2 separate regions of the Homo sapiens genome follow, and region 1 is linked to region 2. Evidence: fine-mapped QTL for protein levels in blood plasma. A gene starts in region 2. The other region holds a variant in brackets. All regions are shown on one strand. Distances are between the middles of the regions.

The links. A credible set is the group of variants that fine-mapping cannot tell apart. PIP is the chance, under the fine-mapping model, that this variant and not a neighbour inherited with it causes the effect. The UK Biobank Pharma Proteomics Project read protein levels with antibody pairs (Olink). The fine-mapping took linkage between variants from a reference panel, not from the people measured, so its PIPs are less certain.
Region 1: its variant is the best candidate, but not a certain one, in a credible set for the plasma level of the PPL protein (UK Biobank, PIP 0.72).

What each region holds. Positions count from the first base shown.
Region 1 is chr16:4,947,143-4,952,507 of GRCh38, reverse strand. No RefSeq gene overlaps it. Among named protein-coding and RNA genes, the nearest start is that of SEC14L5, 8.5 kb to the left of the region's middle. RefSeq lists an enhancer at 3,939-4,696. The variant G/A (reference allele first, on the strand shown) is at 2,297.
Region 2 is chr16:4,933,833-4,939,197 of GRCh38, reverse strand. It overlaps PPL (periplakin), which reads left to right and starts at 2,050. Exons shown (of 22, transcript NM_002705.5): 1 at 2,050-2,214. The coding sequence starts at 2,153. RefSeq lists a silencer at 1,708-2,107.

The DNA.
Region 1 (5,365 bases), 13 kb before region 2:
TGGATGAACCTGGAGGACATTATGCTGAACGGGCAAGAACTGAGTGATTCCACATCTGAGTCACCTAGAGGAGCCCAATCCACAGGGACAGAAAGAAGAACGGTGGCGGGGCTAGGGGCTGGGGGGAGGGGCATGGGGAGTTAATTAATGGACACAGAGTTTGGGTTTTAGAAGATGAAAAGAGTTCTGGGCCGGGCACAGTGGCTCGCGCCTGTAATCCCAGCACTTTGGGAGCCCGAGGCGGGCGGATCACGAGGTCAGGAGTTTGAGACCAGGCTGGCCAACATAGTGAAACCCCATTTCTACTAAAAATACAAAAATTAGCCGGCCATGGTGGCACGCACCTGTAATCCCAGATACTCGGGAGGCTGAGGCAGGAGAATCGCTTGAACCCAGGAGGCGGAGGTTATGGTGAGCCAAGATTGCACCACTGCACTCCAGCCTGGGCAACAGAGCGAGACTCTCAAAAAAAAAAAAAAAAAAAAAGGAGTTTTGGAGATGGATGGTGTGATGGTTACACAATAATGTGAATGCCACTGAACTGCACACTGAAAAATGATTAATTAAGATGGGCAATGTTTTATATATATCTTACTGCAATAAAAAAAATAACAGGAGCTGGTCTGAGTGCAGTGGTGTTTACAACTAATTGTCTCAACCCGTTGCAGATGTGTTTGTTTTGTTTTGTTTTGTTTTGTTTTCTCCACTCCCACTGCTTCACCTGATTAGCCTTGTTTTAAAAAATCACATTGAGGCCAGGCACAGTGGCTCACTCCTATAATCTCAGCACTTTGGTAGGCCAAGGTGGGCAGATCATCTGAGGTCAGGAGTTCGAGACCAGCCTGGACAACATGGTGAGACCCTGTCTCTACAAAAAAATACAAAAATTAACCAGGCGTGGTGGCAGGCCCCTATAATCCCAGCTACTCGGATGGCTGAGGTATGAGAATCGCTTGAACCTGGAGGCAGAGGTCGCAATGAGCCGAGATTGTGCCACTGCACTTCAGCTTGGGTGACAGAGTGAAACCCCGTCTCAAAAAAAAAAAAAAATCACATTGGAAACTTTTTTTTTAATGGGGTTAACCATAGTGTTATCCTGAAGGTTGGTGGAAATTGCGTGAGGAAAAGTAATTGCACAGGGACCACCAGAGGACCCGGGTACATGTTTGTAACTGTGCGGGCTTAGAAGGAGGGGCATTTCCCACGGGAATTTAGGGTGAAGGGGAGTGAGGACTTGACGTTGGACATTTGAGGGGGTGGCCAACACAGTATAGGAAGGTGATAACTCTGCCTTTTGGAGATACAGAATTCATTTATTTAAAGTATGCAATTCAGCTGGGTCTGATGGCTCACCTCTATCATCCCCGAACTTTGGGAGGCCGAGCCAGGAGGATTGCTTGAGGCCAGAAGTTCCAGGCTGCAGTGAGCAATGATCACACCACTGCACTCCAGCCTCAGCAGTACAGCAATACCCTTGGCTGGGCACAGGGGATCACACCTGTAATCTCAGCCCTTTGAGAGGCCAAGGAGAGAGGACCAGTTTAGCCCAGGAGTTCAAAACCAGCATGGGCAAAATAGTAAGGCTCCAGTCTCTACAAAAAATTTTAAGGCCGGGTGAGGTGGTTCACGCCTATAATCCCAGCACTTTGGAAGGCCGAGGCAGGCAGATCACAAGGTCAGGAGTTCAAGACCAGCCTGACCAACATAGTGAAACCCCATCTGTACTAAAAATACAAAAAAAATTAGCCGGGCATGGTGGCAGGCACCTGTACTCCCAGCTACTTGGGAGGCTAAGGCAGGAAAATTGCTTGAACCCGGGAGGCAGAGGTTGCAGTGAGCCGAGATCGTGCCACTGCACTCCAGCCTAGGCAACACAGCAAGACTCTGTCTCAAAAAAAAAAAAGTAAAAATAAAAAACAGGGGCCGGGCGTGGTGGCTCATGCCTGTAATCCCAACAGTTTGGGAGGCCGAAGTGGGCAGATCACCTGAGGTCGGGAGTTCAAGACCAGCCTGACCAACATGGAGAAACCCTGTCTCTACTAAAAATACAAAATTAGCCGGGCGTGGTGATGCATGCCTGTAATCCCAGCTACTCAGGAAGGCTGAGGCAGGAGAATCACTTGAACCTGGGAGGCGGAGGTTGCGGTAAGCTGAGATCGCGCCACTGCACTCCAACCTGGGCAACAAGAGCAAAGCTCCATCTCAAAAAAAAAAAAAAAAAAAAAAAAAAAAGGAGAGAGAGAGAGAAAGACCCTGTCAAAAAAAAAAATAAAAAAAAAAAGAGTGCCATCCAGCC[G/A]GTTTTGGTAGTTTCAGAGTTGCACAACCATCAGCATGGTCAATTTGAGAGCACTATCATCACCTGTGCCCCTTAGCAGTCACTCGCCACTCCCCTCTCCCCAGCAGCCACAGTCTCCTTTCCATCTCTACGAATTCACCTCTGAACATTTCACAGGCAGGATCGTATAATATGTGCCGTTGTGTATCTGGCTTTTCTTACTGAGCCTAATGTGCTCACGGTCAACCATGCTGAAGCGCATGTCAGGCCTTCACTCCCCTTTTTTTTTTTTTTTTTTTTTTGAGACACAGTCCCACTCTGTCACCCAGGCTGGAGTGCAGAATCGCGATCTCAGCTCACTGCAACCTCCGCCTCCCGGGTTCAAGCGATTCTCCTGCCTCAGCCTCCTGAGTAGCTGGGATTACAGGCGCCCACCACCACACCTGGCTTATTTTTTTGTATCCGTGAGTGGCTTCTGTTGTGGGTTAGATTGCACTGAGTGCCATGATTGGTGAGCAGGGAAAGAGGGTGGGAAGTGCAGGGCAGATTACAATGTAGGGACCAGGTGGGCTGCGCTGAGAAGGTGACTTGGCACAAAGGCTTGGAAGAAGAGCAGGGGGTCCACGTAGAGAGTGGGGCCAAGGGGGCAGCCGATGCAAAGGCCCTGAGGCAGGAGCATACTTGGCGTGTTTGAGTATTGGGGAGGCGGTCAGTGTATCGGGGGTAGAGTTAGTGGGAGGGAAGTGGCGGGGAAGAGAGCAGACTCTGAGGGGAGCCTGAGGGAGGGGGTCTCATGGGTTATCTGGCTCTGATGCTGAGGTACTCAGAGTGTCTGGGAGGTATGGGACAGGGGAGTCTGCTGACTTCACTTTAGCCCTCTGGTTGCTGTGTTGGGAATAGATTGTAGTTGACCACGGTGGAGGAGGGGGAAGGGTGCAGAGAGCACGGAGGAGGAGCCAGGAGGAGGGAGGCCACCAAAGTGACCTCAGGAATCTGGAGGTGAGGGGGTGAGACCCTAGATCTCTTGCCCAGGTAGATGCTGTAGGAATGGAAAGGGAGACCCAGGAGAACCAGGAAGGGGAAGCTGTTCCTAGAGAGCGCATCCGTGGAGCGGATGCAGACAGAGGAACCTGGGGAAAACGACCTCTTGTCATTGGAGCCGGACAGTCCCACCTGAAGGTCAGCTCAGGTCTTCAGGAGCTCTCAGTGTGTGATTCTGACCACCAAGCAGGGGTCAGAACAAGGGACTGGCCGCTGGGGAGGGGCCACAGGCACCAACACCCAAAGCTCAGCCCCATCAACACAGCGACTCCAGGGACCCCCCAGCTCAGTGCCTGAGGCCTCAGCTGCCACCCAGCCCCTCTAGGCTGCCCCTGCCAAGAAGAGGACCAGGGACCCGAGCTGTCCTCTTCTCCATGCCTGGGCCCAGGTGGACCCTGCGACAGCCACCAGATGCACGCTGCTACTTACGTTTGCATTAATTAAATTCTGTAAATATGAATATGCTCTATATTTACATAAATAACAATACACATAAACAATAAAATTAACAATTCAGGCTGGGCGTGGCGGCAGGCGACTGTCATCCCAGCACTGTGGGAGGCTTAGTCCGGAGGATGGCTTGAGCTCGGGAGTTCAAGGCACCCTGGGCAACACAGTGAGAATCTCCCATCTCTACAAAAAATAAATTAATGGATTAAAATGAATTTTTAAAAATTAACAATTCAATTCCTCAGTTGCACTAGTCACATTTCACGTGCTCAGTAGCCACATGTGGCTTGCCGCCTCCATGTATACAGAATATTTCCATTGTCACAGGCAGTTTTATTGGACAAGGCTACACTGAGGTCTCCCCACCCCCAACCAGTGGAGGGGGGCCTTTTGGCTGGGGACAGGGGACAGGATGGTCTGGGTAGCGGGAGGTCAGGGACTCCAGGGCTGAAAGGAGGAGTATTTGCCCAGAGCGGAGTCCTGGGCGTGTGTGGGGATTAAGCCTGAGCTTGTGATTAGAGAATGGCCTGGGAGGCGGCTGATGGGGGCTTGGCTGCCTGGGCCCAGCAGGAATGTTTGAGCTCAGCAGAGAGCGTGAACAAAGAGTGGAGGCAGAGCCAGGCAGGCAGGCAGGTGGAGGACGAGCTCACGGAGACACAGGGCAGCTCCGTTCTGAAGCGGAAATGGCAAAACACGACACCTAATAGCAGGCAGCTTCCTTTTTTCACTTGCTACACCCTCAGCTTCCCTGTGAGGCCCACAGGCCTCCCCGAATTCCTCCCAGACTAGGGCAGTTTTGTAATTTACCACCGCTTCCCCCACTGATGGGCACTTAGGTTATTTCATTTGTAAAAAATGTGGTTATCTGTTTGCTTTTCTGTCCCTCCTCCCTTCCAAGACAGGGGGCCCCCAGGATGTGAGGGATGTATCGTGTTTGCTACTATATCCCCAGAGCCGGGTACACAGTAGGTGCTCAATAAATGGATGAGTGACTTGTGGGAGGTATTGTGGGGGCAAGAGGTCGAGATCCTCCACGGGGGTTGGGGAGGAGCCTGGCTCCTGGGAAATGTCAGTGATGCAGAAAACACGATGAGGGAACCTGACGCCCTGCAAGCTAAGGCCTCCCCTTCCTCACCGGGTCCTCAACCACCCTCAGACTGGAGTCTGGCCACTTTCCTCATAGTGTCCCTGGGCCCCCACCTGACGGTGACTCTGTGCCGACTGCAGACTTTGTCTCCTGGGGCACACAGAAGAGGCGCCATGATCCACCCAAGGGGACCTCAAACTTACATTGTTTGTCCATTCCCACTCCTGTCTCCCACAGCAAGCTCCCTGGGAGCAGGAACCTGAGTCTATTGTACTTGATCTTGAATCCTGAGTGCCTAGAACAGGACTTGTCACGTAGCAGGTGCTTAGTAAATATTTGACAAATGAAGGGATGGATGGATGGATGGATAGATGGATGGATGGATGGATGGAGGAAGGGAGGGAGAGAGGGAAGAATGGAGGGATGAAGATATGGATGGATGGATGCAGGAATGGAGGGATGAAGAGATGGATGGAGGAATGGAGGGATGAAGAGATGGATGGATGGATGGA
Region 2 (5,365 bases):
CAACCTCCCCTTCCCAGTTTCAAGAGATTCTCCTGCCTCAGCTTCCCAAGTAGCTGGGACTACAGGCAGGCGCCACCACGCCCAGCTAATTTTTTATTTTTAGGAGAGACGGGGTTTCACCATGTTGGTCAGGCTGGTCTTGAACTCCTGACCTCAGGTGATCCCCCTGCCTCGACCTCTCAAAGTACTGGGATTACAGGAGTGAGCCACCGCGCCCATCCAAGTTAACATTTTTAATATGTGTCCCCTGCCCCGGGACCTGAAAGCTCCCAAAGAGAAAGCCCCTTTTGTGTTGTTCTTTTCCCTTTTCTCATCCGTGTACAACAAGCAGAGCCAGGCACACTGAGGCTGTGAGAGTGATGGGAAACATGTGTTGAATGAGTAAATGACTCCACTGAGCAATACATCCTCCCCCAGAAAAATGCACATTTGGACACACACATTTTGAAAGCAACTTTAGGGCTGGGTGCAGTGGCTCACACCTGAAATCCCAGCACTTTGGGAGGCCAAGGTGGGAGGACTGCTTGAGCCCAGGAATTCAAGACCAGCTTGGGCAACACAGCGAGACCCCATCTCTACAAAAAACATATATAAATATAAAGGTTTTAAAAATTAGCCAGGCGTGGTGGTGGACACCTGTGGATCCAGCTACTCGGGAAGCTGAGGTGGGAGGATTGCTTGAGCCCCAAAAGTCAAGGCTGCAGTGAGCTATGATTGTGCCAATGCACTCCAGCCTGGGCAACTGAGTCTCAAAGAAGAAAGAAGAAAGAAAGCAAGAAAGCAAGAAAGGAAAGAGAGAGGAAGGAAAGAAGGAAGGCAGGCAGGCAGGCACAACTTTAGGAGGAATCACACCTCTATTTACGCCTAGTGGTCCATTATTGGAACGTGACGCCTGTGGGAGTTATCTCCTACTGCTCAAGGTCACTGCCAAGGTATGATTTATCAATTCAAAAAATTGCAACCTCAGGCATAAATGGGTTAAGCCCACCCATAGAAGCCCCATTAAGAATAAGGTTGGCTGGGCACGGTGGCTAATATCTGTAATCCCAGCACTTTGGGAGGCTGTAGGCCGGCAGATCACTTGAGCACAGGAGTTCAAGACCAGCCTGGGCAACATGGTGAAACTCTGCCTCTACAAAAATTTTTAAAAATTAGCCAGGTGTGGTGGTGTGTGCCATCCGGGCTTCAGGTCAGATTAGGTTTCTGTCTAAGGGCAGCCTCCTCCACTGGCACACAGTCTGGGCCAGGACATGCTGGCAGAATTGTGCAACGTCGTTGTTCTGAGCCGCAATCGAGCAGCTTTTATGACCAGCTATGAAGCGCTCTTCTAGTGCCAGGGCCTGGAGTTATTGAAGTTTCAAAGGAGTTTTTGTCCACCCGAGATGGCAAGCGGAGAGCAGATTCAGGCCAGGGCACTGCGCTCAGCGCTTTGCGTGCATTACCTGCAGGGACATCCCCACAGGCCTTTCGGATGGGGTGGTGGTTATCACCGTTTGACAAAGAAGTAAACTGTGGCTGGGAGCAGTAAAACACCTTGCCCAGGAGTGTCAGCCAACCTGGGGGTGGCAGGGCTTGAACTCAGGCCGGCGCCCTCGGCAGTTCAGCCCCCTTCCCTCAATTGCCACCATCTGAGTGCAATTCGCTAGCTACTAGGGCACATGAATCCGTGCGGGTCTCTGCCGCACCTGTCTTGCGGGGCCCAGCTGGGTGTCCGCCAAAGCACCAGGAGCGCCGAGTTCCGCGGTAGCGCAGAACCAGGTGAAGGCCTCGGCCAGAGGCGCGCCGGGCCCGAGGAGGGTGGGGCTGCGAGCGCTCGCCCCGGCGGCCTTTGCGCCCCAGTGCCTGCCCGGCCTCCGGAGTCCCCCGGCTGGGGGTGGGCGGCGTCCGGCCAAGACCCAGTGTCCCCACCCCCGCGTCCAAGCCCCGCCCGCGCGGTGGCCCCTCCTCGGGAAGGTAAGCACCACCTTCTCGGGGAGCGGCCCGCAGAGCCAGTGGCCGGCGGGCGCCCCGCCCCCAGCGAGTAGGGACCCGGAGCCACTGCCGCGCCGCAGTCCGGGCTCCCCGCGCCGCCGCTCGCTCACCTGCGCTCCCGCCCGCCCCTCGGTGCGCGCCCGGCCCGCCAGCCGCCGCCGCCCGCACCCCGAGCGCCACCATGAACTCGCTCTTCAGGAAGAGAAACAAAGGCAAATACAGCCCCACTGTGCAGACCCGGAGGTGAGGAGGCGCCCACAGCTCCGCTCCGGGACGCTCTTGCCCCTGTGGGCGCACAGGACCTGGAAGACCTCCCGGGCAGTGTAGGAATGGGGGGTACGGGGGTCCAGGAACCGGGAACTGAACCCGGAGTGCGGGACTCTCGGGAACGCGGGACCGAGGCCACCCTGAAGCTGGGAAGCGCCGCCAGGTGGGAAGGGACTGGCTGGGGTCCCCGAGGGGGAGCATAACACAGGGGACTCCGGGAGCCCAGGGAGCATTGCCTTGAGGGCCTAGGGCACGGGCAGCTGAGCTGGGGGTACAGGGCACCCCCGTGTCCCAGGGTCGCTCTTGCGCAGAGGGTCGCACAGGACCGGGAATAGTCACCTGGATGAGGGGGCGGAGTTTTTGGAGGACCGGGCACTCAAGGCGGGGTCGCTGCGGGCGACCCAGGAAGCTCCGTCCAGGGGGCGCCCTGAGGCAGGGAAACTGAGCTGGCGTCGGGGGGCGCTCTCCAGCGCCTCTGAGACCGCGCAAGTGTTCCTGGCGTCGGGGAGGCGAGGGATGGGTGTCCGGAGGGGGCGGGCCACCCGCCGCTGCACTTCCCGGCACCTGCCACCCTGCGCGCCAGAGCCGCGCCCGGAGGCCCTGGGGGGTGTGGGGTCGGGTCGAGGGGCACAGGGGGAGGCACCCCCTTACCTCCCCACCCTCTGGGTTCTGAGCGGAGGTTGGGCGGCTTCGGGGCCTCCTCTTCGAAGCTCGGTTTCGCAGGGGTGTGGCTCCCTGCCCCCACCCCAGCCCCGAAACTGGCGGCGTCTCTGAGCCGCGGGTTCCCAGGGCGGCCTGGGAGGGGAATGGCATGTCTTGATGTGTTTGCAGGGAGAAGCAGCCCACGTCCCTTTTGATAAGCCTAATGTGTTCACTTAATAACCGGTTTAGGGGAGCCTGGTGGAGATGCTGAGATTGACGGAGGGGGTGGGAATCCAGCCCCTGCCTTATATCCCCACTTCGGAAAATAGAGTGGGGGCTCTGGGCTAGCAAGGACCATTTTGCCAGCTTCTCGGACAAGAGGCTTCAGGCAGGTGAGGGGCCCGCACATTACATGGCTCTCCTGTCTGGGAGTTCTGCCCCCAAGCTGCTCTCACTGGGAGCCCCCACTGTGCCCTCAAGCAGCTCCTCACTTCTTCCCTAGGCAAGGAGAGGCCTCTGGGCCCAGGGCTCCCACTCAACCCCTGCAGTCCGGCCTAGGCCGACCAGTCGGACAGGTGCAGGCGGCGGGGCCCTAGCACGCTGGAGTGCGACACTCCATTCCGGGGCCTTCCAGCCCTTTCAGAAACCCCCCTGCCCTGTGATCCCACCCACCCGTATCTCCGTTTGGGCTCTTTCAAGCTCAGAGGCATTACCCGCCTTTAGAGATTTCCCCACCCCTCCCCTATCTTTCACAACCCCAGAGACTGGGCAGGGCCTGCACACCCCTCCTCCATGGCTGCGTCCAGCTGGCACTCAGACCCAACCAGAGGCCCGTCCAGTCCCTGCACTGTTCCCTGGGGCATTGCACAATTGGATGCTCCGTGCCAGCCGTGGAGAACCGTTCTGTCCTCTCCACCCCAGAGACTAGACCCATCCAGTCCTTCACACATGCAGACACCCACATACCAGTGGTGGGGCCAGGCCTCGCCCCGCCCTCTGCCTCCTCCCAGCCTCCCTCCTTCGTGCAGCTCTCCATCCTGAAGGCCCCAGCTTGGACCTAACAAAAGGTTCTAATGAACCCAGACAAGCTGGGAGGGGTGCGGGCTTTCCCAGAAGCATGAGGATGAAAGGCATCCCATCCTTTATAGCTGCAGGGACTGGGAGGGTCTGGGGTGGCAAAGATTTGGGGTCCTGCCACTCTCTGTATATCTGGCCCAAGGCAGCCACGGTCTGTCCTAGGCTGATAGCCATTGGTCCCAGATCTCCATTTAGACGTCTCTTTCTCCAGGAAGCCCTCCTGATTCTCTCCCCAGCCTGGGGTGCAAGACCATTCCTTTGAGCCTTGCCACCCCAGCACAGAATGAGCACAGCCACAGCCCTGAGCAGATGTCAGATGCCTCCCCGGGTGGTCTCCAAGCCCAGTGCATCCCTCTGCCCCCTCCCCTTAGTGGGGACTAGTTCGCAGACTGGATTGTGGGGTGGGGGTAGCCCTGTACCCCATCCTCTCAAACGCATCTCTTGAACATTGCCTGATGCCCAGCCAGCCCCATAGCAAGTGTCTTGGTGGGGGGGTGGAGGGGACAGACTTGCGGCTCTAGGCTGTGGTCGCTGGTCACAGGGAGTGGATCCCCAAGTTATTCCTTCACTCTGAGTTTTCCAGGGGCCCGCTCCATTGTCTGGGGGAGGACAAAATTGCTGGTGAGATTCAGCATGGGGGGCAGTAGGAGCTCCAGCACTGAGAGCAGAATGCCTCACTGTTGATCCTGGCATCTCCACCCTGGAGCCTCTCGAAGCCTTGTTTTCCCTTTCTGCACAGCACGGGTGGTAATACTGAGTGTCTCATGCATAGGGCTGCTGGGAGGAGCAGTGCTGTAGCACACAGGAGGTGCCCGGATGAGGGTAGCAGCCCTTTCCGAGCCCAGGGGACCCAGGAGCCCCAAGTGGTGACTTTCATACCCAAGGTAGTCAGGCCTTTGGACTACAAAGTGTGGATTAGTGAACGGAACACCCCACCGAGAAAGCCACCCCTTCCAGTTTGTCTGCCTTTTAGCAGCTGAAGCTGGGGAGGGCCGGGACAGGGTGTGAACCCCGTTGCTCCCGTTGCCCGGGTTCCTAATGACAGGTGTGGGAGTTGATGTTCACACCTGAGCTAATGACAGAGTCAGGCCAGATGGTGCAGGTGACCGAGGACAGCCTCCAGCCTAGTAGAGAGGCCCTGGAGGAGACCCGCTGCCACCCTCCTGGCTGTGCGACCTCAGAGGAGCTGCTTGGCTTCTCTGAGCCTGTTTTCTCACCTGTGGGATGGGAATAAGCACGGTGCCTGCCTGGCGATGTTGGCTCAGGATTAAATGAAATAATGCAGGGGAAAGGTTGTGAATGATAAGCGGCCGCAGGTAATAGCATCTGTGACGATTACAGTTATTAAGCAAATGCGGGCAAGCTAGCTGTGGTGTACCCAGGGTTAAACTTGATATCATGGTGGACA